Linked DNA regions of Homo sapiens. The protein of the gene in region 1 interacts with the protein of each later gene in a pairwise test. Each region holds a gene or a part of one and is shown in the gene's direction. Other genes may lie near its edges.

Region 1 (7,776 bases):
AAACAAAACCACCTGGCCATTCCTTACTCTTGCTTCCACCTGCCTACCTGCCTTTTCATCTTTATGTTACCAGTGCACACAGTAGGTGCTTAGAAATATGTGTTGACTGCCTAAGATGAGTGAGGAAAGTGTCCAAGAGCAGGCCCCAGCCATAGTAACCTCTGTGTCCCTCCAAATCCATCTCTTGTTTCCCACTTTCTCCTGTTCTGTTTTCCCTGTCTATTCTCAAGAAGCAGAACTTAGCCAGAGAGTTGCTGATAAGGCAGTGCTGGGCTTGGAGGATAACTTTACATGGAAGATCTTAGAACTAGTAGAGTGGATGACTCAGTCTTAAGTGAATCTGGAGCAAGACTCCTGCCTTAAACTGGAAAAGGCACAACCTGGGATTTTAAACCTGGTGTTCACTAGCAAACTGTGTTGGCTGAAATAAGGTTTATCAAACTCTGTGATTGTCTCCTGAATTGTGATTTTGGCAACATACTTAAAACCAAAGCAGAAAATTTTAGGATTTGTTGAACTTTTAATAGTTTTTAATGTACATGGAGTTTTCTTATATTTGTCCCTTAAAAAATCCCTAATGAAACTCTAGTTGTAAAATTAAATGCCCTACCTCTTGTCTTACATGCATTTATCTATTGAAAATCCCTCTTCCAACCTTCTTATGTGAAGTTATCAAAAAATCTGTTCTTGCTACTGATTGTACTTAACAGAGCTGTAAATTTTTAAAATAAACACTGAGTTTTCCTTATGTTTTCAACCACGAGTATTCTAATGCTCTGTAGTATCAGGCCCAGATTCTGTTGTTTTTCTACTTTCTCTCATACCTAGGGCTTGAATACAATACTCTGCTTACAGTGAGAGTTCAGTGAACATCAAATGATTTAAAATACGTTAAATTGCATCATGCCTTTCAAGAGTTTCCAAGCATTAAGCTCAGCGCAGCACATTTACTGTGTGTGGTATTTCCTACTTTGATAGAGCAGTGTTGCTAACTAGAGCATACATTGTGTAGAAAACCCTCCTGACTACCTTTTATGGAGCTGAATAAATATGTATACTTGAGTGCTCTCATGTTAGTCATAACCTTTAGTTTAGCACTGTTATATAGAAGTGACAGTCACGTAGCCCACTACACATTATACTAGTTTGAATTTAAACAAAGCAAAACAACTTTATAATTTTAAGGGGAAGAGGAATGGTTCCTGAGGCCAAAAAACTAGAGAGGAAAGGCTTCAAAAAAAGAATAACACAATAATATGTCACTATCATTTTAACATTGTAATTGTGCCTTAGAAATAAATAACAGAAATGTGGGGTATCATTTATTTAAAAATAAAGCAAATGTAGAGAATAATGGATAATAATTTTGAGGGTCTACTCCCAAGTCTCTGGGTGTGACCCACCCCATCCAGGCTGTTAATTTATTTGGTCAACAGTTTCGTGATTTCCATATGGTGCTGATGTCTTTGTTAGCTCTTCTTCACTTCCTGCATTTATTTTTATGTGGCAGGCTGCCTAGTCCCTAGGGGAATAGCTGAGTGGTAGGAGGGGTTGTGATCTTTTAGCAAGATTTCAAAACAGAATAATGTATGCATGTAATAAAAACAAATACGCTCACTCACAGTGCAAAACCAAAAAGAACACCCAAATCCCTGGAACTTCTGTGCTACTAAGTCTTTTGTTGTAGGCTAAGATTATTTTCCTTTTGGGGTTAATTATTTCTGCCTTAATTATTGACTGTTGTGAAATCTCTCTTCTGAGACATTCCCAAATTTTATTTAAACTAGTGGGTACCAGCTGTACTGAAACCATAATTTTAGCCATGTATTTTTATTAGAAAAATGTTTCCAGGGGATTAAGGAATTTTAATATTTAGTGGAAGTTTTAAAAAAGAATGTAAAAATGCCTTTTGGAACCTAAGAATAGTTGTCTATTTTAGAAAAATCAGAAATATTGATGGAGAAAAAAGAAAATTACCCATAATCCTGTGCGAGAATGAGAAATCATAGTTAGCATATTAATTTATACCTGTTCATGTATCTATGCTTTAAACAAATCACAATTTTATTATTATTTTTTTTAACAGTGTCTCGCTCTGCCACCCAGGGTGGAGTGCAGTGGCGTGATCTCGGCTCACTGCAACCTCTGCCTCCTGGGTTCAAGCAATTCTCCTGTCTCAGCCTCCCAAGTAGCTGGGACTACAGGCGCATGCCACGACACCCAGCTAATTTTTTTGTATTTTTAGTAGAGATGGGGTTTCATCATGTTGGTCAGGCTGGTCTCGAACTCCTGACCTCAGGTGATCTGCCCTCATTGGCCTCCCAAAGTGCTGGGATTACAGGCGTGAGCCACTGTGCCCGGCCAACAAATCACAAAATTTCTTATTGAATATTGCATTTTATAACTTGCCCTTTTAAAAAAACCCTAAATGTATTTAAAAAATACACTTTAATGGCCGCATGTGGTGGCTCATGCCTGTAATCTCAGCACTTTGGGAGGCCAAGGCGGGCGGATCACCTGAGGTCGGGAGTTGGAGACCCGCCTGACCAACATGGAGAAACCCTGTCTCTACTAAAAATACAAAATTAGCCGGGTGTGGTGGCATATGCCTGTAATCCCAGCTACTAGGGAAGCTGAGGCGGGAGAATCGCTTCAACCTGGGAGGCGGAGGTTGCAGTGAGTCTCTCTCTCTTGCCCAGGCTGGAGTGCAATGGCACCAATTTGGCTCACTGCAACCTCCACCTCCTGGGTTCGAGTGATTCTCCTGCCTCAGCCTCTTGAGTAGCTGTGACTACAGGCGTGTGCCTCCACGCCATAATTTTTCTATTTTTGTAGAGATGGGTTTCATCATGTAGTCCAGGCTGGTCTCGAACTCCTGGCCTCAAGTGATCCTCCCGCCTCAGCCTCCCAAAGTGCTGAGATTACAGGTGTGAGCCACTGCGCCTGGCCTAGAGCAGCTCCATTTTTAATGGCCATTTGTATGTATTTATTTATAGATGTAACATTTTATATACTGTTATAGACAATATTTAACTTGTTCCCTGTTGATGAACATTTACATTTTGCCTTGTAGGGGAGGAAAAATTTCTCCCTACCCTTTTAGGGTTTCTGGCGAGGCCTAGGAATTAAACCAACATGAGATAGATTAACAGGAGAAAAGCATGCAAATTTTATTTAGTGCTTTTTATGTATTACATACCTTTTACCCTCACAAGAGGAATGAAGACTCAAGGAAGTGGCTTGGCCTGATCGATTATATACTAGGTCAAAAAAAGAGTGGCAGTTGTGGAAAAGTAACTAGGAAGGTAAGGTTTAGTTTAGCAAGGTTTCTTTATGCAGATTTCTTTGGGCTTGGACTTCCTGTGATAAGAATGTTTCTTTCTTCCTGGTAGAGGGAGGACATCTTTCATATGGGAGCTTCATCTTCTGCTTTCAGGAAAAAGAGAGGAGGTTTGGGTGCCCTTCTTAACACCTGCTGTTTTTCAAGTGCCTTTAGCCCAAAATAATCAGCATGCTAAAGTGGAATGTTTTGGGATGCTGTGTCCTGAACTCCTTCACCCTGATATTTTGCTGTTAAAACAAAGCTGCAGCAAATGTATGTGTATGCAAGTCATTCCATAAAAATGCCAGTGTGTCTGTAGGAAGAATTCTTAGAAGAATGTGGCTGTTCAATTTTGATAGTGCCAAATTCTGCTCCATAGAAGTGGTGCCAGTTATACTTCCACCAGCATGTGCGAGCGTTTGCTTTCCCTTGCCATGTGGCCAGGATGTTGCCACACTTTTCCATTGTTGCTTGTCTTATAGGGGAAAAATGGTTTCTCAGTATAAGTCTTACTATATATATTTAATATAAAGGTAGTTTACTTCTTTTGATATGTTTACAATCTACATGGCATTTTCTGTGAAATATCTGGCCATATCTTTTGCCAATTTTTCTATTGTATTTTATAGAATGTACCCCGTTTATGAGATGAGTTGTTAATTTTTTTTCTAGTTTGTCATACCTTTTTTGACTTTATAGTGATTTTTTTTAACCAAGAAGAAATACTAATAGCTCTTTTTTTTTTTTTTTTTTTTTTTTTTTTTGAGACATTGTCTCCCTCTGCCACCCAGGCTGGAGTGCTGGAGTGCTGGAGTGCAGTGGCATGATCTCTGCTCACTGCAACCTCTGCCTCCCAGGCTCGAGCAGTTCTTGTTCAGCCTCCCAAGTAGCTGGGATTACAGGTGCGTGCCAGCATGCCTGGCTAATTTTTTGTATTTTTTAGTAGAGATGGGGTTTTGCCATGTTGGCCAGGCTGGTCTCGAACTTGTGGCCTCAAGTGATCTGCCCACCTGGGCGTCCCAAGCTGCTGGGATTACAGGAGTGGGCCACCATACCCAGCCTAACTAATGGCTCTTTTCATTTATGGATTCTAGCTTTTGAATCATTTTTAGAAATGCCTCCCTCACTTTGAGTTTATGCTTTTATGGTTTTATTTTTTATGTTTAAATCTTTCCTCAATCTGGAGTTTGTTTTGATAATGAGATGTGAGGTATAAATCTTAACACCTCCACCTCCAATTGGCCACCCAACTGCCTAACACCATTCATTGACTAATGGCTTCTTCCTCTATTGATTTGAAATACCACTGTTGTCATGTACTAAATTCTTACATTCTTTTCTTTTCTCTTTATCTGTATGTTCATTGCCAGCAGCTAAACCTAGTTTAAGTTATTGTAGCTTCATAAAATGTAAAAATGTCTGGAAGGGCTAGTTTGCTCTGATTACTCTATTTTTTTTTCTGTCAGTTTTTTTCTAGGTATTCTTGCCAGACTATTTCCAAACGAACATTAGAATCAACTTATCTAGGTGAAAATTCAACAAAAATCATGCTGGCAGATCTTTTTCTCCTTCTCTCTCCTCCCCCCTTTCCCCTTTCTGTCTGTCTGTCTCTCTCTCTCTCTCTCTCTCTCTCTCTCTGTCTCTCTCTCACAGTTAGAATTTGGTCTGTTTCTTTATTCAATACCCCAATATATGTTCATTAGGGTTATACTGTATACACTACACATAACAGTTTTGTTTTTTGTTTTGGATATTATTTGATAATAAGAATTTTACCACATCATTAAAAAAAGTTTCCCCAAGCTATAATTTTTGATAATTGCACTCTTCCACTATTCAAATGTTTATTTAACTCTTTCTCTCCTGGAGTAGGTTTACATTCCATTTTAGCTATGATACTGCTTTAAGAGAAATTGTTTTAAGATAAATTTCCATAGACAGGTCAAAGGAGGTGAATATATGTAAGCTTTTCGATGCCTGTTACTGAATCTCATTCTGGAAAACATAACTGTCAATGCCCTCTTTTTCTCATGGTAAAAAAATACATAACAAAATTTACCATCTTAATCGTTTTTAAATGTACAGTACGATAGTGTTAACTGTATGTACCTTGTGCAACAGATCTCTGAAACTTTTTCATTTTTCAAAATGAAAACTCTGTACTCATTGAACAGCAGCTTCCCAACTTCCCCATTCCTCCATCCCCTACCCCTGGTAACAGTCATAGAAACCGTGATTTTATGAGTTTGACCACTTTAGATACCTCATATAGGTGGAATCATGCAGTATTTGTCTTCTTGTGATGCTTATTTTATTTAGCATGATATCGGGGCTCATGCGTGTGTAGCACATGACCCAATTTCCTTCTTAAGGCTGAATAATATTCCATTGTATGTATGTACTACATTTTCTTTATTATTTATCTATCAGTGGAAATTAAGGTTGCTTCCACATCTTGGCTGTTGTGAATAATGCTGTAATGAACATGAGTGTGCAAATATCTCTTTGAGAGCCTGTGTTCACTTCTTTTAGAAATATACTCAGAGATGGGATTGCTGGATCATATGATAATTCTGTTTTAATTTTTTCAGAACCTTCATACTGTTTTCCATAATAGCTTTACCAATTTACATTTGCACCAACAGTACACAAGGATTCCAGTTTCTCTCCATCTTTATCAACACTCGTTATTTCCCGTTTTTTTTGTTTGTTTGTTTGTTTTGTTTTGTTGTGTTTTGAGACACAGTCTCACTCTGTCACCCAGGCTGGAGTGCAGTGGCTCAATCATAGATTACCATAACCTTGAACTCCTGGGCTCAAGTGATCCTCCTGCCTCAGACTCCCAAGTGCTGGACTTACAGGTTGAGCCATTGTGCCAGGCTGTTTTGCCTGTTTTTGATCAGATTAGTTGTTGAGTTGTACGACTTTTTTATATATATGTTCTGGATATTAACCCTTTATTGGATGTTTGGTTTGCAAATATTTTTTCTTATTACGTAAATTGCCTTTTTATTGTCTTTTTTTTCTTTTCTCTTTTTAAGAGATTGAGTCTTTCTCTTTTGTCCAGACTAGAGTGCAGTGATGCAATTCTAGCTCATTGTAGCCTTGAACTCCTGGGCTCAAGGAGTCCTTCTGCCTCAGTCTCTCTAGTCATTTCCTTAAAAAAAAAATTACAGAGCTTATAGGCTTCAATTTGTCTGTTTCCTAGAGAGGTTATAGATGTTATTATCCATTTGTATTTCCCTCTAGAGATTGTTACTTATCTACTTTGGGATCTTAGTGTGTCTTGCCTTCTCATTGTTCTCTGTCACCTTCCCTCCTTGGCAAGTATTTACTTTTTCTATTTTGCTTATCATTTTGGTTATGTTGGATCTTTCAATGTTATTTTTATTAGCAAAATACAGTATTAGGAGCAAATATTTTCCAGGTGACATTTTGGGGGTAATTTGCATGGCTTTCTGTGGCTTTCAGTACTTCCTTCTTGGTGTCTTTTCTGTTTAGACACTTGTAATTGGTACTAAAAATAGTGATTTCAGACAGGCTATTAATTTACATGCCTTGGCTCATAATCATGGTGAGTGTGTTTTATGTTACAGCTATACAAATGTAAATGTCAGTTTTAAAAATTATTTAAGGCCAGGTGCGGTGGCTCACACTTGTAATCCCAGCACTTTGGGAGGCTGAAGTGGGCGGATCACTTGGGGTCAGGAGTTCGAGGCCAGCCTGGCCAACATAGCGAAACCCTGTCTCTACAAAAAATATAAAATTAGCCCGGCGTGGTGGTGCATGTCTGTAGTCCCAGCTACTCAGGAGGCTGAGGCAAGAGAATCGCTTGAACCCAGGAGGTGGAGGTTGCAGTGAGCCAAGATCATGCCTCTGCACTCCAGTCTGGGTGACAGAGCGAGACTCTGTCTCAGAAAAAAAAAAAAATATATATATATATATATATAAATGTGTTCTTGATAAAAGTTTTGGATTGGGAACTTATTAACAGGATGAAATTTCACCCATTGTATCCTTAGTTTATTTGGAGGCATTGTGGTGTGGAAAAGGAGCTTATGGTCCAATCAGGAGGGCTTAAGAAATAAAGATGATAGTTTATCCAACCCACTAGAATGTGTACTTGGCTAGAAATAGTGTCACTAGAATAGGAGACTGCCTTACATTTTATTCCCAGCTTGCAGTTCAAGTATGAATGTAGTAGGTACTCCATAAATATTTCTCATATTGCACATACATCAATCAAAAAGACTTCTAGCATTAATAGAGTCAGATGGATTTGGATAGAAAAGACTAAGAATTAAAGAAGGAACATGGTTTGGCAGGGAGATAGGAATATATGTTCTAAATATGCTTATAGTCTTACATATAATCACTGAAAATCTGTCTGTGAATATAAGTTAAATTGGTACTTTGCTCCTAAGGCAGGTATGTAAGAATGTGTGTGTATACAT
Region 2 (8,573 bases), on another chromosome or scaffold:
TTCCTTTTCTTTCTTTCTTTCTTTTTTTTTTTTTTTGAGACAGAGTTTTGCTCTTGTTGCCAAGACTGGAGTGCAATGGTACGATCTCGGCTCACCGCAACCTCACCTCCTGGGTTCAAATGATACTCTTGCCTCAGTCTTCCAAGTAGCTGGGATTACAGGCATGTGCCACCACGCCTGGCTAATTTTGTATTTTTAGTAGAGATGGGGTTTCGCCATGTTGGCCAGGCTGGTCTCTAACTCATGACCTCAAGTGGATCTGCCCACCTCAGCCTCCCAAAGTGCTGGGATTACAGGTGTGAGGCACCTTGCCCGGCTTCATCTTTCTTCTTTTGCGCTTCCACTTGTATATTTGCTTCTTCCTCCACTTAGCTCTCGTGGCACAGAGGTTTCCAAGAAGATGGTGCCAAGACCGAGAGACTCTTCCAGTCTTGACCAATGAATTCTCCATGAGGGCTGACACCAGCCCATATGGGCCTTTGTACTCATTGGCAAGGGCATCCCTTCCTCCAGACATTTTACTTCCATTTACTGGAAAACTGCCATCGTGCACTGATTTCGTTAGAATGATAAACTGCCTTCTGCCAAAGAAATGTCGTAAGAAACATACAGTTCTACAAGGTCTTGATGTGAAAGGTGCCCCTTAGATGTGGTACCTTTGTGCAGTGTGTGACATGAACAACTACGCCCAGCAGCCCTGCCTTGCCTCACATCCTAGCTCTGATTCTATCACTACCCCCAACTTTTTTTTTTTTTTTTTGAGTCAGAGTCTTGCTCTGCTGCCCAGGCTGGAGTGCAGTGGCGTGATCACGGCTCACTGCAACCTCTGCCTCCTGGGTTCAAGCAGTTCTCATGCCTCAGCCTCCTGAGTAGCTGGGATTACAGGCATGCACCCCCACGCCCAGCTAATTTTTGTATTTTTAGTAGAGACGGGGTTTCACCATGTTGGCCACACTGGTCTCGAACTCCTGTCCTCAAGTGATCTGCCTGCCTTAGCCTCCCAAAGTGCTGGGGTTACAGGCATGAGCCACTGCGCCCAGCCACTACACCCCAACTTTAAAATAGTCTATGGCTCCCCATCACAGCAGTGCCAAGTCAAAATTCTGCTATAGTTTCAGGGAGCCCCTGTTATCCTATCCTACTACTTTGTCCCATCCCCTTGGACTGCAGTAGACATCTAATTCAAAGGCAGCCAATCCACCTGCAAGAGGGCGTTCGGTGAGCAAGCTTACATTCCCTTTGTCCCTTTCAACACCACCTGGCACAATGTGGGCAGTGGAGATTTTACAGGTGAATGGGGGACCGGCCCTTCTGCCTGGGGATATCAGGTTCTTGTCTGGTGAATACAGGAATAATGACATCTGATGACAGCAAACCCCATTAAGAGGGAGGAGGCTCTCTCTTTGACAGTAATTTCCAAGTCGCTGGCTGGCTGACTTCCCAGAGCTTTCCTGATCTGGCTACAGGAACCAGGAACTCCTGATTCCTCTGTTCCTCCATCAGCCTGGAGTAACCCCTGGGAGGGGGTGGGGAGGAGGGGGTGGGCTGGACTGAGCTTTCTGCCTTATCATCCAGTAGCAATTTCCCTCTAATTCCCTCTAAGCATTTACACAGGGTCTCAATTTTATAAGGCATCCTACTGGGCAAAGCAAAGGGAACGAGACTGGTAAGACACAGGCTCCTCTGCCCTTTTGCTGGGAAGCCTGGGCTGTCCCTCCCTGCTCCCCCTGCAGCTAAGGGGCACCTGGCCTCTCTCACTGTCCCCTGTCTCCTCTGTGACATCACGCCATTGAGGGCTCCCTCTCTCTGCGTTTTTCAACTTCTCTCCCTCTTCTGGCTGCCCCCTCCCTGCATCAAGGCTAGAATAAATACCAGCCAACCCCTAAACAAACCCAGATGCAACACATACAATTGGCTTTTGTCCCCTGTAGCTGTCCTTTCATCTTCTCTTTCCCTTTCCAGCAAAATCACTGTCTCCATTTTTTCTTTTCTTTCTTTCTTTTTTTTTTGAGACAGAGTCTCACTCTGTTGCCCAGGCTGGAGTGCAGTGGCATGATCTCGGCTCACTGCAACCTCCGCCTCCTGAGTTCAAGTGATTCTCCTGCCTCAGCCTCCCAAGTAGCTGGGACTACAGGCGCCTGCCATCATGCCTGGCTAATTTTTCTATTTTTAGTAGAGATGGGGTTTCATCATGTTGGCCAGGCTGGTCTCAAACTCCTGACCCCAGGTGATCCGCCCACCTCAGCCTCCCAAAGTGCTGGGATTACAGGCGTGAGCCACCACACCCAGCCTCCAATGACATTTTATAATTAGCCACCCCTCACCTCATGCATCAGGCCTCACATGCCCTCTCTGATTAATCTTCAACAGCCTGATAAGCTAGTCCTTTCTCACCATCTCCAATACACAGGTGGAGGGACTAAGGCTCACGAAGCCCAACGCACTTGCCCTGCACTCACCACCAACCCACCTTTCAAATGAGACAGGCTTGATCACCCTGACCCAGGTGAAATGGTCCATCCCTCCTGTCTTTCCACAAAACGTTCATTCATTCAACAATTACACCCATTCACTACTATATGTGAGTCACTGTTCTGGGTAAGCGAGTGCTCCCCTCTCTCCCTCCAGCCATGATCACCATTAAGAGGCTGATGCCATCATCTGGATGTGAAATCAGGGGGGTTACTGTTAAACCTGCAATATCTGGCCGGGCGTGGTGGCTCACACCTGTAATCCCAGCACTTTGGGAGGCCAAGGCGGGTGGATCACGAGGTCAAGAGACCGAGACCACCCTGATCAATATGGTGAAGCCCCGTCTCTACTAAAAATACAAAAATTAGCCGGGCATGGTGGTGTGCGCCTGTAGTCCCAGCTACTCGGGAGGCTGAGGCAGGAGAATCACTTGAACCCGGGAGGCAGAGGCTGCAGTGAGCCAAGATCGCGCCACTGCACTCCAGCCTAAAGACAGAGCGAGACTCCATCTCAAAACAAACAAACAAACAAACAAACAAACACCCTGCAATATCAATCCAAGAGATCCTGGAATGCCTCTTGCCCTGTGAAACCTGGCAGAGCCCTGAGGTTTGGGTCAGTGCCCCCTGCCGTGGGTCTCTGGCCTACAAAGGCACCATGGGTACGTACATGTAAGTGCTAGATACCACCTCACTGCCCACACTCCATTGCCACGGAAGCATCGGGGGCAGGGAGAGGCCTTGTCAGTCTAAGTAAAGATAAGACCCTGAAGAGCAAGTGGATCTAGAGGGGCTGATCCGAAGGGGAGACCCCTCCAAATGACCTCCCTCTGTCCCTCCCTCCGAAAAATAACATTCCATAGAACAAGAAAGTCAGGAGAGATATGAAGAGGTCATCTGGTATGCCGATGGAAATGCCACCAATTATATTTATTTGGGTCACAAAATTCTTTAAAAAGCAAATTAGGGCAGCCTGAAAGAGTGGAAAGAACACACATTTCAGAGTAAGACAGACTTGGCTTCCACTGAAAGCTTCTTTCCTTCTTAGCTCAGTGTCTTAGAAACTACTATGCCTCTCTCCATCTTGGTTTTCTTTTCTTTTCTTTTTCTTTTTTTTGAGACCGAGTCTTGTTCTGTCGCCCAGGCTGGAGTACAGTAGCGTGATCTTGGCTCACTGCAACCTCTGCCTCCCAGGCTCAAGCAATTCTCCTGCCTCAGCCTCCCAAGTAACTGGGATTACAGGTACAATGCCACCACTCCCGGCTAATTTTTGTATTTTTAGTAGAGATGGGGTTTCACCATGTTGGTCAGGCTGGTCTCGAACTCCTGACCTCAAGTAGATCCGCCCACCTCAGCCTCCCAAAGTGCTGGGATTACAGACGTGAGCCACCGTGCCCAGCCCTGCAACAGACTCTTGATTGGTCTCCCTGCCTCAGCCCTGGTTCCATTCCGTTATTCTCAAGCCAGACAGATCCCATTGAAAGGGAAGTCAGATCCCAGCACTTCTTGGCTCTGAACCCTGCTGTGGTTCCTTTGCACCCGCCATCTCCCTCCCAGTTCTGGTAAGGGCCTCCCCTCTGGCCTCTTTCCCAGCTCCTGCTCACTCAGCTGCGAAAGCACTGGCTTTCTCCCTGTGGCTCCTAGACCACGCTGAGCTTAAAGGCTTACCTGGGGGGAGGCCTGAAATGCTCTTCCCTGCAATGTTCTTCTCCTGGTTCTCGTCCTTTTATCAGATAGCCTGACTATTCTGCAATTGCCCACCCCTCTACTGGTAGATATTACCTTTTAATCCTCACCACAGCCCCAAGGCTGGGTGAGGTTAGGAAACTTGGCAGAGGGCAGCTGTCCCTAAGTGGTGGAACTGGAACTAGGAGCCAGCGGTGGCCCCGGTGGCCCCGGACTCCAAAGCCCCAGGCCCTGGGCTTGGCAGAGCCAGGCATGGAGGGAGGCAGTTGGGGGAGGGAGCTTCCATAGAGACACGGCCTCCGTCCTCAAATCTAGTGAGAGACAGAGAAGCAAATGGATAAATTACAGTGCCTGGCATATGGTAGGCGCCAAGAAATACGTTTTGTTGTTGAACAGATTATGAGGCGTAAGATGTGCAGACATTTCCGTGGGGCCCAAAGAAGGCACGTGAGTGTGTTAGAGGGAGGCGAGGAAGGGGCTGGGAGAGATTTCCCAGTGAAGGGGGGCATTTGAGGTAGACTTTGAAGGAAGGGTAGGAGTTTGCCAGAAGCCATGGGGCCTGGGGAGTAGGAACAGCATGGAGGGATGAAAAGAAGGCGATCTGAGAAAATGGGTTTTGAGGAGCTCTGAATATTAGTGTTAGAATTCCCTCAGGTACCCCAGGGCCCCAGCCAGAGATCAGCATATACAGTACAGGAGGCTGGCCAGGTACCCCGACAGGCTAAGGGGTTGCCAGCAGGTGAGGGGCCTACCCGGTGCGGCAGCCTTGTTGGACAGCGAGGCTACCTCCTGCCCTCTGAACTTCTGCCAGCATCGGGACCACCCCGGTACCCACAGCCGGACCCGGACACCGGAGTCCTCTGGGGGCGGGGCGCGAGTGGCCTCTGCAGGCCAGTCCCTTGGTGAGGTCACACACGGAGGCGGGGCTCAGGATTGGGGGGCGGAATCATGCGCAGGGGGCGGGGCCCGAGAGAGAGCTTGGAGAAGACCGGAAGTCCCTCCGCCTCCACTCGCCCTCGTGCTCCCTTCAGCCCCTTCGCAGCTCCGTGCGCAAGGTCGTGTCCCGGAAGTGAAGGGGCCATGTTGATGGGTGACCCGGGGAGAGGTACCCGGCCAGAGGCGAGTCCTGCGGAGTGGTAGCGCGCACGGCCTGCGGGTGAGTGAGAGAAGGAATGAGGGCCGCCGGCGGCTGGGCGGCGGGGAGGTTGCAGCGCCTCCTCTCAGGCTGCTGCCGGCGCCTCGCATGCGGCCCGGAGTCAGGATACCAGCATGCAGCCGGGGGTCTCGCCCCATCCCGCCCTGGACTTTCCCCTGGGAGACCCCTCGGCTGCCCCGCCCCGCCCCAACCTCGGAGACCTCCAGTGCCCCGAAGCAGGCCTGCCCTGGCCTCTGGGCCTCCGCACCCCGGCCCGGCCCCCACGGTTGGTGAAGTGCAGACTGGCTGGGGCTCAGCCGCCCAGTCGCCCAGCGACCTTGTAGTTACAGCCCTCGCCGTGACAGTCGCCTTTTACAGCATCAAACACTTCTGTTGATTTTCTGCATCGGGAGGTCCTTAGGGCCGAGGGATCTCTTAAACAGTTGAGGAAAAATGGGCAGGGATGGTGGCTTGCTCAAGCTTGCGCAGGAAGTTAGCAAGGCCGGAGGCTAAGGGCTCGCGGACTTTGGGCCCAAAGTCCAATCTTTTTTTCCAGCCAAATACTTCCCCCACTTGGTGTCATTTCTTTATTTCTGAAACGGAGGTGATCATTTCTTCCACATAGGGACGTTGTGAAATTCTCTCCGTTACGCATAATTTTGAGCCCCTTGTATGTGCCAAGCGCTGTGCTGGGAAAGTTCGTGGAGCACCCAGAAGTGCTGTACACACGGTCCGGCTCCAGCAAAGGGTAACTCATTCCAGAGGCAGGCAGAGTTGGGGTCAGGAGTGCAGCCCTCCCCTTGACAGCTGTGGGCCCGCGGGCAAGTTACTTCCCTCTGGGAGATTGTTTCCTCCACTTAAAATGGGGTAATGTTGACCCCTAGGGTAGCTGACAGAATGAGTTGTTATGTGAGACATGCTTCGAACATTGCACGTTGTATATAGTGCAATATAATGCAATAAGCATTTACTGTTACTAAGAACCCTGACCACCTTCTAGATTCTTAATTTAAATGTGGTCATGGGCAACAAAGCACTTTACAGATATGCTTGTGTAAGGGTTTATTGTTACTGAAGGAAGGCAGTGGCAGTTTATACTTAAATGTAATTATTTATTGAGCATTTACAAACCTGGCTAGGTGCTACTAATAATATCTGCTGTTGATAGAGTGCTTCGTGTGTGCCAAGTGCTGTTCTAAACATATTCACATACATTAAACTCATTTAGTGCTTATGCCAACCGTATGGGCAAAATATGATTTTTATCCTCACTTCACAGATGAGGAACTGAGACAGTCACAGAGAGGTTAGGAGACTTGCCCACGGTCATGCAGCTCGTAAGTGCTGGTGCCAGGATTCAAGTATGGCTGAGTGCTTGTCTTCAACCCTCCTAGATCACCCCCTGTGGTGAAGTTCTATTACCGTTCATTACGTGCACAGTTCTCAAAATAATCCTATGTGGTAGGTACTATTGCCATAATATCCTAATCTCCATTTTATAAGTGAGGAAGCTGGTGCTCAGCGGGGGTTCAGTCCTTTGCCCAAAGTCATATGGCAAGTAAGTGGCAGGGCCAGGATTTGAGCCCTGGTGAACCACAACCTGTATGTTTCCAGAATGGGCATCCAGAGGCTGGGGTCTCTAGTTCTAGTCTTGCCATTAAGTCATACGGTGACCTGGAGCGGGGGGTCTCTGGAACTTGGATTAAAAAGCCCTCACATAGTCTCTACAGGTCCTTTTGTTATTAATTCTGATACTAGGCTTGTATGTCTTTCCTTCTGTTTATAGTGTGACACCCAGCCCCTGCCAGTCCCCCATGGCCCCGTGGAGCCGAGAGGCGGTGCTGAGTCTCTATCGGGCTCTGTTGCGCCAGGGCCGACAGCTTCGCTACACTGATCGAGACTTCTACTTTGCCTCCATCCGCCGTGAATTCCGAAAAAATCAGAAGCTAGAGGACGCTGAGGCCCGGGAGAGGCAGCTGGAGAAGGGCCTGGTCTTTCTCAACGGCAAATTGGGGAGGATCATTTAGGATCCTCCAAGGGAAAGAGGACAAAGGTGCCTTCTGTAGACACTCCTGCTCTCTTCCATCCCCATCTTACAGATGTATTAAGAAGCCTCAGGTACGTAGGCCCTCGTTCCTGTAGGTTTCCTTATTTTTTGTTGCAAGGGACCGAGAAAAGGATCAAAGTCATCCTTTTAGTCATTAGAAATCAGTGCAGAGCCAGGTGCACTGGTGTGCACCTATAGTCCCAACTCTGCAGGAGGCTGAGGCAGGAGGATGGCTTCAGCCCAGGAGGTTGAGGCTGCAGTGAGGTATGATTGCACCACTGCACTCCAGGCTGGGTGACAGAATGAGACCCTGTCTCTGGGGTGGGGGGGAAAAAAGAGGACATTTGAGGTCTGCCTCAAATGAGAAATAGAGGTTTACCAGCAGCAGGGCAGGAATAAGCAAATGCCTGGAGTGGGAACTGCAATTTTCTTTTTTAAGAGACAGGGTTGGCCCGGTGCGGTGGCTCACGCCTGTAATCCCACCACTTTAGGAGGCCAAGGCAGGAGGATCACAAGGTCAGGAGTTCGAGACCAGCCTGGTCAGCATGGTGAAACCCTGTCTCTACCAAAAATACAAAAAATTAGGCGGGCATGGTGGCGCATGCCTTAAGTCCCAGCTACTCAGGAGGCTGAGGCAGGAGAATTGCTTGAACCCGGCACGTGGAGGTTGCAGTGAACCAAGATCGCGCCACTGCACTCCAGCCTGGGTGACAGAGTGACACTCCGTCTCCAAAAAAAAAAGAGACGGGGTCTCGCTCTCGCCCAACCTGGAGTACAGTGGCATGATCATAGCTCTCTGGAACCTTGAATGCCTGGCCTCAAGCAGTCCTCCCTTCTCAGCCTCCTGAGTAGCTGGGACGCCAGGCATGTACCAATGTGCTCAGCTAATTTTTTATTTATTTATTTTTTTTGTAGAGACGGTCTTGCTATGTTGCCCAGGCTGCTTTCAAACTCTTAGCCTCAAGCGATCCTCCCACCCTTGCCTCCCAAAGCTTTGGGATTATAGGTTCAAACAGCTCTGCCTGTCCAGAAACTGCACTTTGTAGTCTGGAAACTTAAGTCTGATGTGGCCAGCATGGTACCCCTGTAAGGCAAATAGCCAGAGTTGAGGCTGGGCCTGGTCTGGAAGGACGTTGACTCCAAGTTGAGATTGTAATGTATATCTTCTTATGTGGGGACCATCACAGCTCTGTAAACAGAGGAATGACATAGCCACATTTGTATCGTAGAGGGA
Region 3 (7,776 bases), on another chromosome or scaffold:
CTCTGGGAGAAAGGTGTGTGGGAAAGGCACTCTTCCTGGTGACTGATTTTTTTTTTTTTTTTTTTTTTTGCATGCTTCCACATTGGTCAGGACATTGGTCTCCTAATTTTCCAGGAAGGAGAGAGTCTCTTTAGCTGGCAGTCGCCTGCAGTATTCACTTGTAAGTGGTACTCCCAGTGGGAGTACTGCTGTTAGTGTACGTTTTATTTACTGTTTAAAGGGATGAAAAGGCAGGTCACGTCTCTCCTTTTGGAAGGTAACTGAAAATTCTACTGAGGTTACCACCAACTGAGGCCACACAAAGGAAATCAGTTCCTCTTCCTCCTGAGAGCCCGTCTCTTACTTGAGAAAACAGTTATCATCACTACCTGCTGCTTTTCTCCTGGGTCTTTTCTTCTCTGGCTTAATTTCTCCAGCTTCTTTAACCATTCCTCACGTGACATGTTTGAGCCTCTGCAACATAATCCTCCTTTGTTCAGATTTTCAGTCATTCCTCTTCACAAACAGCATTCTAGAACAGGGTGGGAACTGCCCTCATCCCAGCCCTCTGCAGCCTGAGACATGACACTACCATTTTTGGTGGCCCCTGTTGATCAGCCAGGGAGGGGGAAACCGAGCAACCCATAGGCGCCCGTCCCACTCGGGAGTGCTGTCCAGCAGTGTGTTTCTCGCTCCACAGTGGCAGGTCATGAGAGCCTTGGCTTCTGGCTGGATGTTTCTTCTTCACTCTCAAGGTTCTTGTTGTGCGCTTTCCCTGTTTCATTAGGAGGAGAGTTAATCAAGAAAAGGTCAACAGTGTCTTCAAAATTATTTTGTCATCAAGATGTGATCAGAATGTTCAGCTCCATGAGGTTTTGGAACTTATTTAATATTTGTTAGTATCTAGCAGTTAAAATGCACAGATCTTTTTAATTTAAATTTTTTTGTTGTTGTAATTGTAGATTCACATGCAGTGTAAAAAATAGTAAAGAGAAATATACCTTTTACACATTTCCCCAGTTTCTGCCGAACCTTTGCAAAACTGTAGTACAAAATCACAACCAGGATATTGATATTACTACAATCTACCAATCTCATTCAGGCTTCCCCAGTTCTGCTTGAACTCATTTGTTTGTATGTATTAAGTTGCATATAATTTTGTCACCTGTGTGGGCATGGATATTTATAAATTAAAGACTCCATGAAAGTATCATCCCCTTTCTTTTAGGCTATCATCTGACTCAAATTCTCAAACTTTCTGCTAGGTAGAATCAGTTCCCCATTCTTTCTTGGAATGGTGGAAGTCTTATCCACAAATAGAATTTTAATAATGAAAGTCATACATCAAATCTAAAATGATTCCATAATTCATATGGCAGTATCCATTCCAGTGATTCATCAATAACAAAATGAACCTAAGTGCTTAAACAGTAAGCCTGTTAGACGAGGTTTTTGGGGGAGTTTTTTTGTTTTTGTTTTTGTTTTTTGGAGATGGAGTCTCACTCTGTCACTCAGGCTAGAGTGCAGTAGTATGATCTCGGCTCATGCAACCTCCACCTCTCAGGCTCAAGCAATTCTCATGCCTCAGCTTCCCCAGTAGCTGGGATTACAGGTGCCTGTCACCATGCCTGGCTAATTTTTGTATTTTTTAGTAGAGATGGGGTTTCACCATGTTGTCCAGGCTGGTCTCGAACTCCTGACCTCAAGTGATTCACCCGCCTCGGCCTCCCAAAGCGCTGGGATTGCAAGCGTGAGCCACCACGCCCAGCCAGTTGGTTTTATATGTATATAAAAAAGGAATTCTTGGCCAGGCGCGGTGGCTCACGCCTGTAATCCCAGCACTTTGGGAGGCCGAGGCAGGCGGATCACAAGATCAGGAGATCGAGACCATCCTGGCTAACATGGTGAAACCCCGTCTCTACTAAAAATACAACAACAACAAAAAATTAGTCGGGTGTGGTGGCACATGCCTGTAGTCCCAGCTACTCAGGAGACTGAGGCAGGAGAATCGCTTGAACCTGGGAGGTGGAGGTTGCAGTGAGCCGAGATCGCGCCACTGCACTCCAGCCTGGGCGACAGAGCGAGACCCCAGTTCAAACAAACAAAAAAAAGGAATTCTTAGGGGACAAACCTGAGTCCCTTAGAAATGAGTTTGTGACTTGTACTTCTTTTTCCTCATCATTGCCAGCATTAATAGATAGGCTACGTATAGTCAAGTACCATACTTCTTTTGTCACAAACAGAAGTACAGTAGCCTGGCATGGTGGCTCACACCCGTAATCCCAGCACTTTGGGAAGTTAAGGCAGTTATATTGCTTGAGGCAGGCAAATCGCTTGAGCCCAGGAGTTCAAGACCAGCCTGGGCAACGTGGCAAAACCCCATTTCTACAAAAAAGTATACATATAAAAATTAGCCAGGCATGGTGGTGCATGCCTGTGATTCCAGCTACCGGGGGGCTGAGGTGGGAGAATCGCTTGCACCCAAGAGGTTGTGGCTGCAGTGAGCTACAATCGTGCCAATGCACTCCAGCCTGGGTGAGAGAGAGTGAGACCCTATCACAAAAACAAACAAGCTGGGTGGAGTGACTCACGCCTAAAATTCCAACACTTTGGGAGGCCAAGGCAGTTAGATCACTTGAGGTCAGGAGTTCGAGACTAGCCTGGCCAACATGGCAAAACTGTGTCTGTACTAAAAATACAAAAATCAGCTGGGTGTGGTGGTGGACATCTGTAATCTCAGCTACTCAGGAGGCTGAGGTAGGAGAATCGTTCAAACCCGGGAGGCGGAGGTGGCATGAGTCGAGATCGCGCCGCTGCACTCCAGCCTGGGCAACAGAGGAGACTCTGTCTCAAGAAACAAACAGACACCCCAAAGTACAATAAATGAAATAGAGTAACTAAGTCATTTAAAAGAAGAGGAACAATTTTACTGAATACCCTCTTAAAGAAATGCTACCAAAAAGAGAGGAAGCTCTCCTTAGAACAAATTTTGTTTCCATCTCTCCTGAGCCATAATTCTGAATGAAATTAGATTTAAGAGAAAACGGTATTTCTTTACTGGAATGGGTTCTGCTGTATTCATCCTTGAACCCCAGACTTTTTCAGCTATTTAGAAAGGAAATTGATGGGAATTGAAATTGTTACTCACGTAATATCATTAGAGTGTGCTTACTTTTTATACTCTTTTAATTTGGTCTGTTAGAAAAATGTGAAATATGAAGTTTAGTAAAAAGTGAGAGCTTATTTTTACATATTTTGAATAAGGAGCAGCGCTTGAGCAAACGAGAAATGTCAGTGTTTGAGTCCTAAGTTTTTCAAATACGTGAGTTGCATTTTTACTTTTATGATTTTTAAAAATAAAATTATCGTTATTATTTCAGTTGCAGTATCCAGTTTATTGGGACCATCTCGAGTTCTGTGATGGATTCAGAAAACTTTTAGACCATTTACAATTGGATAAAGTGAGTACCCTGAAACTAATTACATACATACAATTTTTTTTTTATTTTTTGAGATGAAGTCTCACTCTGTCACCCAGGCTGGAGTGCAGTGGCGCGATCTCGGCTCACCGCAACCTCCACCTCCCGGATTCAAGTGATTCTCCTGCCTCAGTCTCCAAAATAGCTGGGATTACAGGCGTGTGCCACCATGCCCGGCTAGTTTTTGTATTTTTAGTAAAGATGGGGTTTCGCCAGGTTGGCCAGGCTGCTCTCAAACTCCTGACCTCAAGTGATCCGCCCGCCTCAGCCTCCCTAAGTGCTGGGATTACAGGCGTGAGCCACCGTGCCGAGCCCTCTTTTATTTTTTAATAATAGCTTTATTGCAACATAATTCATATACCATATAATTTACCCTTTTAAGTATACAGTTCCATGTTTTTCAGTATACTCCCAGGTATGTGCAACCATCACTGCAGTCAATGTTTTATAATTTTTTTAATGCCAAAAACCTCATATTCATTAGCAGTCGGTCCTCATCTTCCCCCCTACTAGCCCTGCAACCTAATTTATTTTTATCTCTATGGATTTGCCTATTCTAGATATTTTACATAAGTGGAATCGTATCATATGTGGTCTTTTTGACTGGCTTTTTTTATTTAGCATTGTGAGTTTAAGGTTCATTCATGTTGAAGCCGGAATCAATACTTCGTTTCTCTTTACAGTTAAATCATATTTTTATAAATATGCCATATCTTGTTTAACGATTCATCAGCTGATGCACATTTGGGTTGTTTTTACCCTTTGGATATCATGAATAATGCTGCCATGAACATTCATGTACAAGTTTTTGTGTTGACATATGTTTTCAGTTCTCTTAGGTATGTGTTTAGGGGTGGAATTACTGAATCACAGTTTTCTTAGACATAAACCACTAAGTGGTTTTGAGTTTTTTCTTTTTTTTTTTTTTTGAGACAGGCTTTCACTTTGTTGCCCAGGCTGGAGTGCGGTGGTGCAATCATGGCTCACTGCAGCCTCAACCTTTTGGGCTCAAGCGATCCTCCCACCTCAACCTCCCAAGTAGCTAGGACTCTAGGCACGTACCACCATGCCTGGCTAATTTTTGTATTTTTAGTATACAGGCCTTTTCCATATTTCCCTAGCTTGGTTTTGTTGGTTTCTTTTTTTCTTTTCTTTTTTTTTTTTTTTTTAAGACGGAGTCTCGCTCTGTTGCCCAGGCTGGAGTGCAGTGGTGCGATCTTGGCTCACTGCAACCTCCGCCTGCCAGGTTCAAGCGATTCTGCTGCCTCAGCCTCCCGAGTAGCTGGGACTACAGGCACGCACCACCATGCCTGGCTAGTTTTTTTGTATTTTTAGTAGAGACGGTTTCACCATGCTGGCTAGGCTGGTCTCGAACTCCTGACCTCGTGATCTGCCTGCCTCGGCCTCCCAAAGTGCTGGGATTACAGGTGTGAGCCACCGTGCCTGGACTGGTTTTGTTTTCTAATGCAATCTGTGAATGATATTTTTTTTAATTATATAACTTGGATGCCAAGTTGTATTATCTTGATGGACTGTATAAATTGCATTTAAATACAATATTTTCTAAATTTCTAGCTGCTGTAAATATTTTAGTCTATTGGCTAGTGATAACATATTCTGTGGTTAGTGATAATTGAAGCAACTTTTTAATACTCAGGTTCAAGATTGATCAGTATTTCAGAATCTGCCTTATATTTGTTTATAATTAGGTTCATCTTTTTGGCGCTTCTTTGGGAGGCTTTTTGGCCCAGAAATTTGCTGAATACACTCACAAATCTCCTAGAGTCCATTCCCTAATCCTCTGCAATTCCTTCAGTGACACCTCTATCTTCAACCAAACTTGGACTGCAAACAGGTAAGAACAAAATTACTTTTTTTGTTCAGTGAAATTTTGAAAATGTTGGCTTTTGAGTGTTTGGTACATTAGGAAGGGAAGACTTATATCTACTTCTATATTCTGCAACTTCCTTGGCTTTTTTTTTGAGACAGAGTCTTGCTCTGTCACCCAGGCTGAAGTGCAGTGGTGCAATCACAGCTTACTGCAGCCTTTATTTCCCAGGCTCAAGCGATCCTCCTACCTCAGCCTCCCAAGTAGCTGGAACTACAGGCAGGCATGCATGGCACCACACCTGGTTAATTTCTGTATATTTTTGTACAGATGAGGTTTTGCCATGTTGTCCCATGCTGGTCTCTAACTCCCGGGCTCAAGCCATCTGCCCACCTTGGCCTCCCAAAGTTCTGGGATTACAGGCATGAGCCACTGTGCCCGGCTCTTTCTTGGCTTTTAAAATTAGAAACAATTACCTTTGCAAAAGGAAAGAATTGAATGAACTCTAAATTCAGCTTTTTTTATTACCTTAAATTTTTAAATTTTGTTTAATATTCATTAATATACTTTTGCTGTTTTTATTCAGTATTTCTATGTAACTAATACCATGTTCTGTTTATCCCACTTATTATTATGTGTAAACAGTTCCGTGTATTGACTGACATAGTTTTATTAGGCATTTGGCTTTTCCCAATTCTTCATCACATTCTACAGTAAATCTTTGTACAAATTACTGGGTTTTTTCCCTTTCCAATTTATTTCCTTGAGATATGTTCTCCAAATGGAAAGAATAGAGCATTTGGTCTGTCAACAGATGTTCTGCACATCATGACCCTTGATATTAGTCTGTTCTTCCAAAAGATAGAAATGGTGGAAATGAGGCTGGGTGCGGTGGCTCACACCTGTAATCCCAGCACTTTGGGAGGCCGAGGCGGCCGGATCACCTGAGGTCGGGAGTTCGAGACCAGCCTGACCAACGTGGAGAAACCCTGTCTACTAAAAATACAAAATTAGCTGGGCAAGGTGGCACATGCCTATAATCCCAGCTACTCAGGAGGCTGAGGCAGGAGAATCACTTGAACCCAGGATGCGGAGGTTGTGGTGAGCCGAGATCACGCCATTGCACTCCAGCCTAGGCAACAGGAGCGAAACTCCATCTCAAAAAAAAAACAAACCAAAAACAAAATGGTGGAAATGCTTTGGGTGCAGCCAGTGGGGTACTTGTTTCCTAGGAGCCATCCTTTCATTGATTTTATCATTTTAAGTAATTGGTAGGTATCTATGATGCCATACAGCTGGCTTACTGTGCACTTCTTTCATTGCTGGCAAGGCGAGGCTCTAGCCTTAAAATAAAGCCCAGTGGCCAGGTGTGATGGCTCATGCCGTACTCCCAACACTTTGGGAGGCCAAGACAGGAGGATCACTTCAGGCCAAGAGTTTGAAACCAGCCTGAGCAACATAGTGAGACCCCATCTCTACAAATAACAATAATAATAAATTAGCCAGGTATCATGGTATGCACCTGCAGTCCTAGCTACTCAGGAGGCTGAGGCAGGAGGATCGCTTGAGCCCAAGAGTTCAAGGCTGCAGTGAGCCACAACTGTGCCTCTGTACTCCAGGCTGGGTGACAGAGCAAGACCCTACTTCAAAAAAAAAGCCCAGTGAGTAAACACATCTGTATGATCAGTGTTTTCAAATAATGTATAGGGAAATATCGTTTTCACATCTACTTAAAATTGCACTCTGATATTTTTTAGTTTTTTTTGTTGTTGTTTGTTTTTTTGTTTGTTTGTTTTTGAGATGGAGTCTCGCTCTGTCGCCCAGGCTGGAGTGCAGTGGCACGATCTCAGCTCACTGCAAGCTCTGCCTCCCAGGTTCACGCCATTCTCCTGCCTCAGCCTCCCGAATAGCTGGGACTACAGGCGCCCGCCACCATGCCTGGCTAATTTTTTATGTTTTTAGTAGAGACGGGGTTTCACCGTGTTCACCAGTATGGTCTCGATCTCCTGACCTCGTGATCCGCCCGCCTCAGCCTCCCAAAGTGCTGGGATTACAGGCATGAGCCACTGTGCCCAGCTATTTTTTAGTTTTTCTGATGTTATCTTAGTAATTACTCAGCATTCATGCAACAATTTCTTGTATACATTAGCTACTTTACAAATCCTTCCCGTCCAGATAATGCACTAAATAATGCTCATTATTTTTGGTGATTTTTATTGCTGTTCTAATTGTTAGAATGCCAAGACAGCCCCCATTCAGTTTGTGCTCTGGCACATCAGCTGCTTATTGTCAAATATCTGAGTGCTTACTGTGTGCCACACACTGAGGATCCAGGAGTGAGCAAAGTCAACAGGGTCCACCCCTTACAGAGCGTACTTAGACCTCATCACCTTCAAAAGATAAGAAAGTGATGGGGCTGGGAGAGAACTTAGAAAGTTAACTGGAAGGTGACCTAGTGGTCCTTTTGAGGGAAGCTCAACTTCCAGCAAG
Region 4 (7,776 bases), on another chromosome or scaffold:
GCATGCAACAGGAACACAGAACTGTAGCTCTGGAGTCTTCTGGAGGTCTCCAGATTCTCAGCTGCTTGCGCACAGCCAGGGCTGCCTCCATGCAGTCCTGACCTCTCACGCCCTAGTGTCTGTGGATGCTGGCCCTGGTTTTGGTACCCAGAGTCCTACCTTCCAGGCAAGTTGGGAGGGTTGGTTAGCAGTCAGCTTCTAGGAGCTATTTCCTGCTGTCCTGAGGCCATCCTGGCACTGTCTGTCAGCATCCTGTGTCCCCATTGGGCATTTACCACAGCCTGGGGAGCAGTTGGTTACCTTCTTTCCCATCCGCCCTACAGACTATAAGCTCTGTATGGGTAGACAACGGGTCTTTCAGATTTCTACTCCAGTAATAACTGCAGGTAGAAGATGTTCTTTAAATCTTTTTGAAGTATTTTTTTAAGTGGATGAAGTCAATACGGCTTAGGGTGCGTGCAAAAATACTTGTTTTGCTTTTACAGTTGATTATTTTAAGGGGAGACATTTAATTATTTCTAATTACTTTTTGTCATTTGTCCTGTAGGTTCCCCCTAAAGGACTCAAAACGTCTAATCCAATGGTTAAAAGCTGTTCAGAGGGATAACTGGACTCCCACTAAGTATTCATTTCTCTGTAGTGAGCATTTCACCAAAGACAGCTTCTCCAAGAGGCTGGAGGACCAGCATCGCCTGCTGAAGCCCACGGCCGTGCCATCCATCTTCCACCTGACCGAGAAGAAGAGGGGGGCTGGAGGCCATGGCCGCACCCGGAGAAAAGATGCCAGCAAGGCCACAGGGGGTGTGAGGGGACACTCGAGTGCCGCCACCAGCAGAGGAGCTGCAGGTTGGTCACCGTCCTCGAGTGGAAACCCGATGGCCAAGCCAGAGTCCCGCAGGTTGAAGCAAGCTGCTCTGCAAGGTGAAGCCACACCCAGGGCGGCCCAGGAGGCCGCCAGCCAGGAGCAGGCCCAGCAAGCTCTGGAACGGACTCCAGGAGATGGACTGGCCACCATGGTGGCAGGCAGTCAGGGAAAAGCAGAAGCGTCTGCCACAGATGCTGGCGATGAGAGCGCCACTTCCTCCATCGAAGGGGGCGTGACAGATAAGAGTGGCATTTCTATGGATGACTTTACGCCCCCAGGATCTGGGGCGTGCAAATTTATCGGCTCACTTCATTCGTACAGTTTCTCCTCTAAGCACACCCGAGAAAGGCCATCTGTCCCCCGAGAGCCCATTGACCGCAAGAGGCTGAAGAAAGATGTGGAACCAAGCTGCAGTGGGAGCAGCCTGGGACCCGACAAGGGCCTGGCCCAGAGCCCTCCCAGCTCATCACTTACCGCGACACCGCAGAAGCCTTCCCAGAGCCCCTCTGCCCCTCCTGCCGACGTCACCCCAAAGCCAGCCACGGAAGCCGTGCAGAGCGAGCACAGCGACGCCAGCCCCATGTCCATCAACGAGGTCATCCTGTCGGCGTCAGGGGCCTGCAAGCTCATCGACTCACTGCACTCCTACTGCTTCTCCTCCCGGCAGAACAAGAGCCAGGTGTGCTGCCTGCGGGAGCAGGTGGAGAAGAAGAACGGCGAGCTGAAGAGCCTGCGGCAGAGGGTCAGCCGCTCCGACAGCCAGGTGCGGAAGCTACAGGAGAAGCTGGATGAGCTGAGGAGAGTGAGCGTCCCCTATCCAAGTAGCCTGCTGTCGCCCAGCCGCGGTCAGTACCGGAGCCTCGCGTACCCATGTTCCCTTCCCGTTAGGAGGGGTTTCTCTGCAAGGTGGCCAGCGTCCCCTGAGCATTTCTGGGAGGTGTCACAAGCTCCCTGCGCTCTCAGGAGGAAGCTCTGGTCGTAACCATACCTTGTGGATGAGGGAATCCAGGTTAGAAAGCAGGCCTCACTGCACCTGGTCCCACAAGAGGCATCTGTGTGTGTAGGGATGTAGGCCGTGAAGGAGGCAGGCAGCACGCGTCAGCCAGGAGTGCCTGAACGCCTCCGTGGAGAGTGCACAGGGAAAGATAGCTTCTGTTTCATACCTTATGCAACAGAAATTCCAGATGAGTTAGGAACTAGATGGAAAATAAGAGAGTAAACTCTCAGAAAAAGCAAATATCAGAAACTGTTAAAATCATGAGGAGGTTCTTTCTGTTCACGTTTTAAGGAATATCCTTGAAGTTAAATCATCATGAACATTAATAATTATTTTAACATCTATTCAATTAAAACATCTGTTGAGGCTGGACTCGGTGGCTCACACCTGTAATCCCAGTACTTTGGGAGGCTAAGGTGGGCAGATCACTTGAGGTCAGGAGTTCGAGACCACCCTGGCCAATATGGTGAAACATACAAAAACATACTACTAAAACATACAAAAACTAGCTGCACATGGTGGTGCACGCTTGTAATCCCAGTTATTGGGGAGGCTGGGGCAGGTGGATTGCTTGAACCTGGGAGGCAGAGGTTGCTGTGAGCCAGGATTGCACCACTTCACTCTGGCCTGGGTGACAGAATAAGACTCTGTCTCCAAAAAAAAAAGACACACATCTATTGAAACACATTCTCAGCCGGGCATGGTGGCACACTCCTGTAATGCCAGCTACTCAGGAGGCTGAGGCAGGAGAATAGCTTGAACCTGGGAGGCGGAGGTTGCAGTGAGCTGAGATGGCACCACTGCACTACTCTTTGTCAGCCTGCGTGACAAAGAGCACAACTCTGTCTCAAAAGAGAAAAAAAAAAAAAAAGAAATACAATACATTCTCTGTTGCAAAAATTAAAACTGCAGAAATAGACTAAGAAGTGGTAAAAAAATTATTGTTTGTCATCCACCTCCCAAGTTCTATTCCTTGTTGTTATTAAAAATTTGGTGTGTAAGCCAGGCACAGTAGCTCTTGCCTGTAATCTCAGCACTTCGGGAGGCCGAAGAGGGAAGGTTACTTGAGTCCAGAAGTTCAAACCAGCCTGGGCAACATAGGGAGACCCCATCTCTATAAATAATTTAAAAATTAGCCGAGTACCATGGTGCACGCCTGTGGTCCCAACTACTTGGGAGACTGAGGCAGAAGGATAGCTTGAGCCTGGGAGGTCGAGGCTGTAGTGAGCTGTGATTGCACCACTGTACTCCAGCCTAGGTGACAGTGAGACCCTGTCTCAAAAAACAAAATTTCCTGTGTAATCTTTGTATGTATATTAGCTCTATTTCTGTTTTTTCCCATATTTTACTGTTAAGTATTTCTTAAAATTGGTTTCTAGATGTTTACATATGGCGGATGGTTTCCTTTGCCTGTCGTGTACATAGGAAAACCATATTCCTACCACATTGTTGATTTCATCTGGATCAATGCTTGTCAATAAGTATATGATAGTGGGACAAGATTTTCAGGACCTCCTGGATCCTCAGGGTAACAGCTATTAGCACAACCGAAAACAAAGCCCATCCGACATGTTCTCCAGATGTGTCCTGGGGAGGAACGGTGCCACTGAGTACTGCTGACCTAGATTTTCAGATCAAATCTAGATTTTCGGATTCTTGGGTTGAAATTGTATACTGTTTTTCTCTTGGAATTTTATTTTATTTTTTGAGATGGCATCTCACTCTGTTGCCGAGGTTGGAGTGCAGTGGTGAGATCTCAGCTAACTGCAACCTCTGCCTCCCGGGTTCAAGCAGTTCTCCAACCTCTGCCTCCTGGGTTCAAGCAATTCTCCTACCTCAGCCTCCCAAGGAGCTAGGATTACAGGCCCCTATCACCACACCTGGCTAATTCTTATATTTTTAGTACAGATGATGTTTCACCATGTTGGCTACAGTTGTGAGCCACCACACCAGGCCTTCTCTCGGAATTTTTTTTTTTTTTTTTTGAGACGGAGTTTTGCTCTTGTTGCCCAGGCTGGAGTGCAATGGTGCAATCTTGGCTCACCGCAACCTCCACCTCCCGGGTTCAAGCAATTCTCTTGCCTCAGCCTCCCGAGTAGCTGGGATCACAGGCATGCGCCACCACACCCAGCTAATTTTGTATTTTTAGTAGAGACAGTGGTTTCTCCATGTTGGTCAGGCTGGTCTCGAACTCCCGACCTCAGGTGATCCACCCGCCTCGGCCTCCCAGCTTCTCTTGGAATTTTAAAGCTGTTTGTAGTTATCAGAGCTAATGCTGCTTTAGACAGCTTCTCTCTGTTCCTCTTGGTTAAACTTCCTGAAGTTTGTCTCCATTACAGGTTTTTGCAAACAGCCAGCCCTTCGTGTCTCTGAGTTGTTGTTTATGCTGGTTAATCCTTACATCTTTTTGCTTTGTTGGGTTTTTTCTTGTAGTTCTGGTTCCTGGCGTGTTCCTTAACCCTGCAATGGAGGCTGTGGCTCTGCTGTTCCTTGGGCTGCGTGCCATGGATCTGCCTCTCTCTGCTTTTGTTGCTGTTCATTTCTGAGTCGTTTGTAATTCCAGCCTCGATGCCCCCTTTAACCCTGTGGTTATTTAAAAGGGTGTTGACAGATTTTTCAGTGCACACAGATTGGGCGAGGGGAGCAAATTTTTTTGTAGTTACTTTAAAATTTGATTGCATTAAGGTCTAATGGTAAGGACTGAAGGAGTTCTGCTTTTTGGAATCCTTTGAGACTTCACTGTGGCTAACACAGTCCCTTTTTGTGACTGTTGCAGTGTAGTGCTAGAAGAATGTATCCTCACCACTCCTTGGTTATATTGTTCCCGCCTGAAGCTGGGCACTTGCTTACTTGTGTTAGTCAGCGGACCAGAGCGTTCCCTAGCTTCTTGTCAGGCTCTCGGTCTGCTGATTTCCAGGAAAGGTGAGGTAGACCTCCCCTGTGGTTCTGGAGGTGCCCGTTTCTGCTTGTATGTCCAAGTTTTGCTTTCTGCCTCAAGACCATGCTGTTTGATGCATAAGTTTTCCTGTTACCAACACAAGAAACTCCTTTTTGTCCCGTTTAACGTCTTATTTCTTCATTTCCTTATTTTCAACCTTTTCATCTTATTTTATAGTTATATTTTTAACTCAATCCAAAAGTCTTTTTGTAGAGTAATTTAGTCATTTACAATTGTGATTACTGATAAGTGGGAATTCGGGCCTACCTTTTTAATTTGTTAGGCTTCCTCACCGTTTTCTTATTATTCTTCTAGTGGATATGTTTCAATTTTTTCTTTTCTTTTTTTTTTTTTAAGAGACAGGGCTTTGCTCTGTCACCCAGGCTGGAGTGTGGTGGTCCTATCACAGCTCACTGCAGCCTTGACCTCCTGGGCTCAAGCCATCCTCCCACCTCAGCCTCTCGAGTAGCTGGGACTACAGGCACATACCACCACATCCGGCTAATTTTTAAAATTTTTTGTAGCAATAGGGTCTTACTATGTTGCCTGGGCTGGTCTTGAACCCTTGGCTTCAAGGGATCTTCCCGTCTCAGCCTCCCAAAGCTCTGGGTTTATAATTGTGAGCCACTGTGCCCAGCCCATCTTTCAGTTTTAAAAACAAACACGTGAGCCCCTCTTTGTGTAACTGTTGAGAGCTGATCGGTCCTGTGTGCCACCTTCCCTAGGTGGAGGCTGTATGTCATCTTAGTTCCGGTGCTTCTTATTCCCCCATCAAGCAACCATGATTATTAGATTGAAGTATACATTTTACTGGTTACTTTATTTACCATTGTTTGCTGTATCCAAGTTTCCCCTCCTTTTTGGCAGTATTTAATGACTTTTTTTTTTTTTTTTTTTTTTTGAGACAATCTCAGACTGGAGTGCAGTGGCATGATCTCGTCTTACTGCGGCCACGACCCCCTGGGCTCCAGCGATCCTCTCACCTGAGCCTCCTGAGTAGCTGGGACTACAGGCATGTGCCATCATGCCCGGCTAATTTTTTGTGTGTTTTTTTGTTTTTTTGTTTTTTTTGTTTTTTGTTTTTTTTTTTGTAGAGATGGGGTTTTGCCATGTTGGCCAGGTAAGCCACCGCACCCAGCCATGACTTTAAAAAAAAAAAATCCTATTCCAGTACAGTTTTGAGGGGGGCGCTGGTGACTGTTGTGGCAGTCCCAGGGTAGATGGCGATGGCTCAGACTTTAGGGAGGAAGTGGCGGTGGTAGCAATGCTGGAGTACTGGCTGGGTTCAGGGGGTTGAGAGGCAAAAGATCAGCAGGCCAGCTACAGGGATTAGGCTTGAGCACCTGGAGGATGCTAAGTGGGAGAGGCTTTTGGGGAGGAGCAGGAGATGGGGGTGAGGAACGGAGTTTGAGATGCTCTTGGGTGCTGAGGCCAGAGTTTGAACAGGCAGTCTGAGGCCAGCAGCTGGCCTCTGGGATTTGGGCATGTGAGTGTGGGGGTGGAGGGCAGAGGTGTTTGAAGCCTTGGGGGGTCGAGTGTGGTTCTAGGCTGGGCTTCAGTGCCCGGCCCAGGAGCAGGCCTCGCTGAGAGAGGGGCAGCCGAGGCGGGTCCAGGGGAAGGCTGAGGGGTTGTTCAGGAAAGAAGGGTGACTTGCTGTGCTGGGTGCTACTCTGACCAGAATGGAGAGAAGGGGGCTGGATGTGCCCCAGGATAGTGGAGAGAAGGGGGTTGGATGTGCTCCCAGGGTCGCTGGTTACTGGAATCTCACTGGAGAGGCTGGTGGAGCTGGGCGGAGAGGGGGCCAGTGATGAGGGGTCAGGGCCAGGTTTGGCCGTGAAGTGGAGTGAGGCAAGTAGACAGGAGCCAGAGGGAGTGTGGCTCCAAAGAGAGTGTGTCAGTGGGGAGGGCTGTGAAGGGCCAGGCTCTGGAGAGCAAGGGACAGGTGCAGGCACCACCCTGCATGCCTTGTGCCCCTCCAAAGGTGAGGCCAGGCCACGGCTGGGCATGCGGTGTGGGCACAGGGGTGGCAGGAGCGAGGGTGTGGTGGGGAGAGGACATCCTCTCCCTGGGGTTGCAGTCTGTCACGCCGGCGTCGCAGGCCCTGGGGTCTGCACTCTGTGGTTCTTGCTGTCCGTGTGGATTTGTTCTTCAGTGACAGACTCTTTGGGTCATTCTTTAGGGATTTATGTGGAAAGCGCCGCACACTTGTCTATTCAGCTCGCTAGCCAGTGTCTGCTTTTGGGCAGGTTCCCCAAACTGAAGGATGCGGGCCAGTGGGCTTCAGAGGTGGGTTGAAGCCACGCTCCAGAGGCAGTGCCCGGTGGCGTTCTGTGGACGTAGTGTTCTTCTCCGCCAGCAGCGATTCCTTGAGGGTACATTGTTAGCACGTCTATGAACCACGTGTTCGCGGTCTTGCTTGCCCACTGAGTTATAAACGTTCTTGATACAGTAAGGATACCAACGCCTGTTAAATATTATTCACCTGTTTCCTAAGTTCAGCAATTTAACACTTGCTTCAAAATCTGTTTTCTTTTTATTCCTTTATGGATTCATTATCTACATATAATTCTTGAAATCTGGATTGTCAAAATCCAAGTACAAAACAAGTGAACCTTAATGTAAACTATGGACCCTATTTGTAGCAATGAATCAGTATTGGTTCGTAACTTGAGACACACATACCCACACTAATGCAAGATGTTAATCATAGGGGAACAGGGCAGGGGGTGAGAGGGTGAAGGAATTCTCTGTACTACCTGCTGGATTTTTCTGTCCTAAAAACAATCTGTTAATAAATAATAAATGGAAGCTGAAGAGTTTGGAGAAGTGCAGACAAAACAGGAATGTCAGAAGAGTGATAAATGGTGAAACTAGGGACATGTGTGTGGATTTATTACACTAATCTGTTTAATTTGTAATGTTCAAGATTTTTCACAATATAAAGTTGTTCAAAAATCCAGATTAGCTGGGCTCAGT

Evidence for each region.
Region 2: the proteins of TPD52 (region 1) and MIEF1 interact in binary tests that used the Homo sapiens proteins (3 or more experiments, as listed by UniProt).
Region 3: the proteins of TPD52 (region 1) and SPG21 interact in binary tests that used the Homo sapiens proteins (3 or more experiments, as listed by UniProt).
Region 4: the proteins of TPD52 (region 1) and THAP4 interact in binary tests that used the Homo sapiens proteins (3 or more experiments, as listed by UniProt).

What each region holds. Positions count from the first base shown.
Region 1 is NC_000008.11:80,161,209-80,168,984, reverse strand, and holds part of TPD52 (tumor protein D52), read left to right. Parts: intron 1-7,776.
Region 2 is NC_000022.11:39,497,125-39,505,697, forward strand, and holds the start of MIEF1 (mitochondrial dynamics protein MIEF1), read left to right. Parts: upstream 1-5,165; 5' UTR 5,166-5,313; intron 5,314-7,078; 5' UTR 7,079-7,106; coding exon of another isoform or gene 7,107-7,319; 5' UTR 7,320-7,410; intron 7,411-8,573. Other genes in the region: MIURF (mitochondrial ribosome and complex I assembly factor AltMIEF1), read left to right, coding at 7,107-7,319. UniProt on the Homo sapiens protein: Mitochondrial outer membrane protein which regulates mitochondrial fission/fusion dynamics.
Region 3 is NC_000015.10:64,972,139-64,979,914, reverse strand, and holds part of SPG21 (maspardin), read left to right. Parts: intron 1-3,359; coding exon 3,360-3,440; intron 3,441-5,167; coding exon 5,168-5,313; intron 5,314-7,776. UniProt on the Homo sapiens protein: May play a role as a negative regulatory factor in CD4-dependent T-cell activation.
Region 4 is NC_000002.12:241,626,851-241,634,626, reverse strand, and holds part of THAP4 (peroxynitrite isomerase THAP4), read left to right. Parts: intron 1-547; coding exon 548-1,710; intron 1,711-7,776. UniProt on the Homo sapiens protein: Heme-binding protein able to scavenge peroxynitrite and to protect free L-tyrosine against peroxynitrite-mediated nitration, by acting as a peroxynitrite isomerase that converts peroxynitrite to nitrate.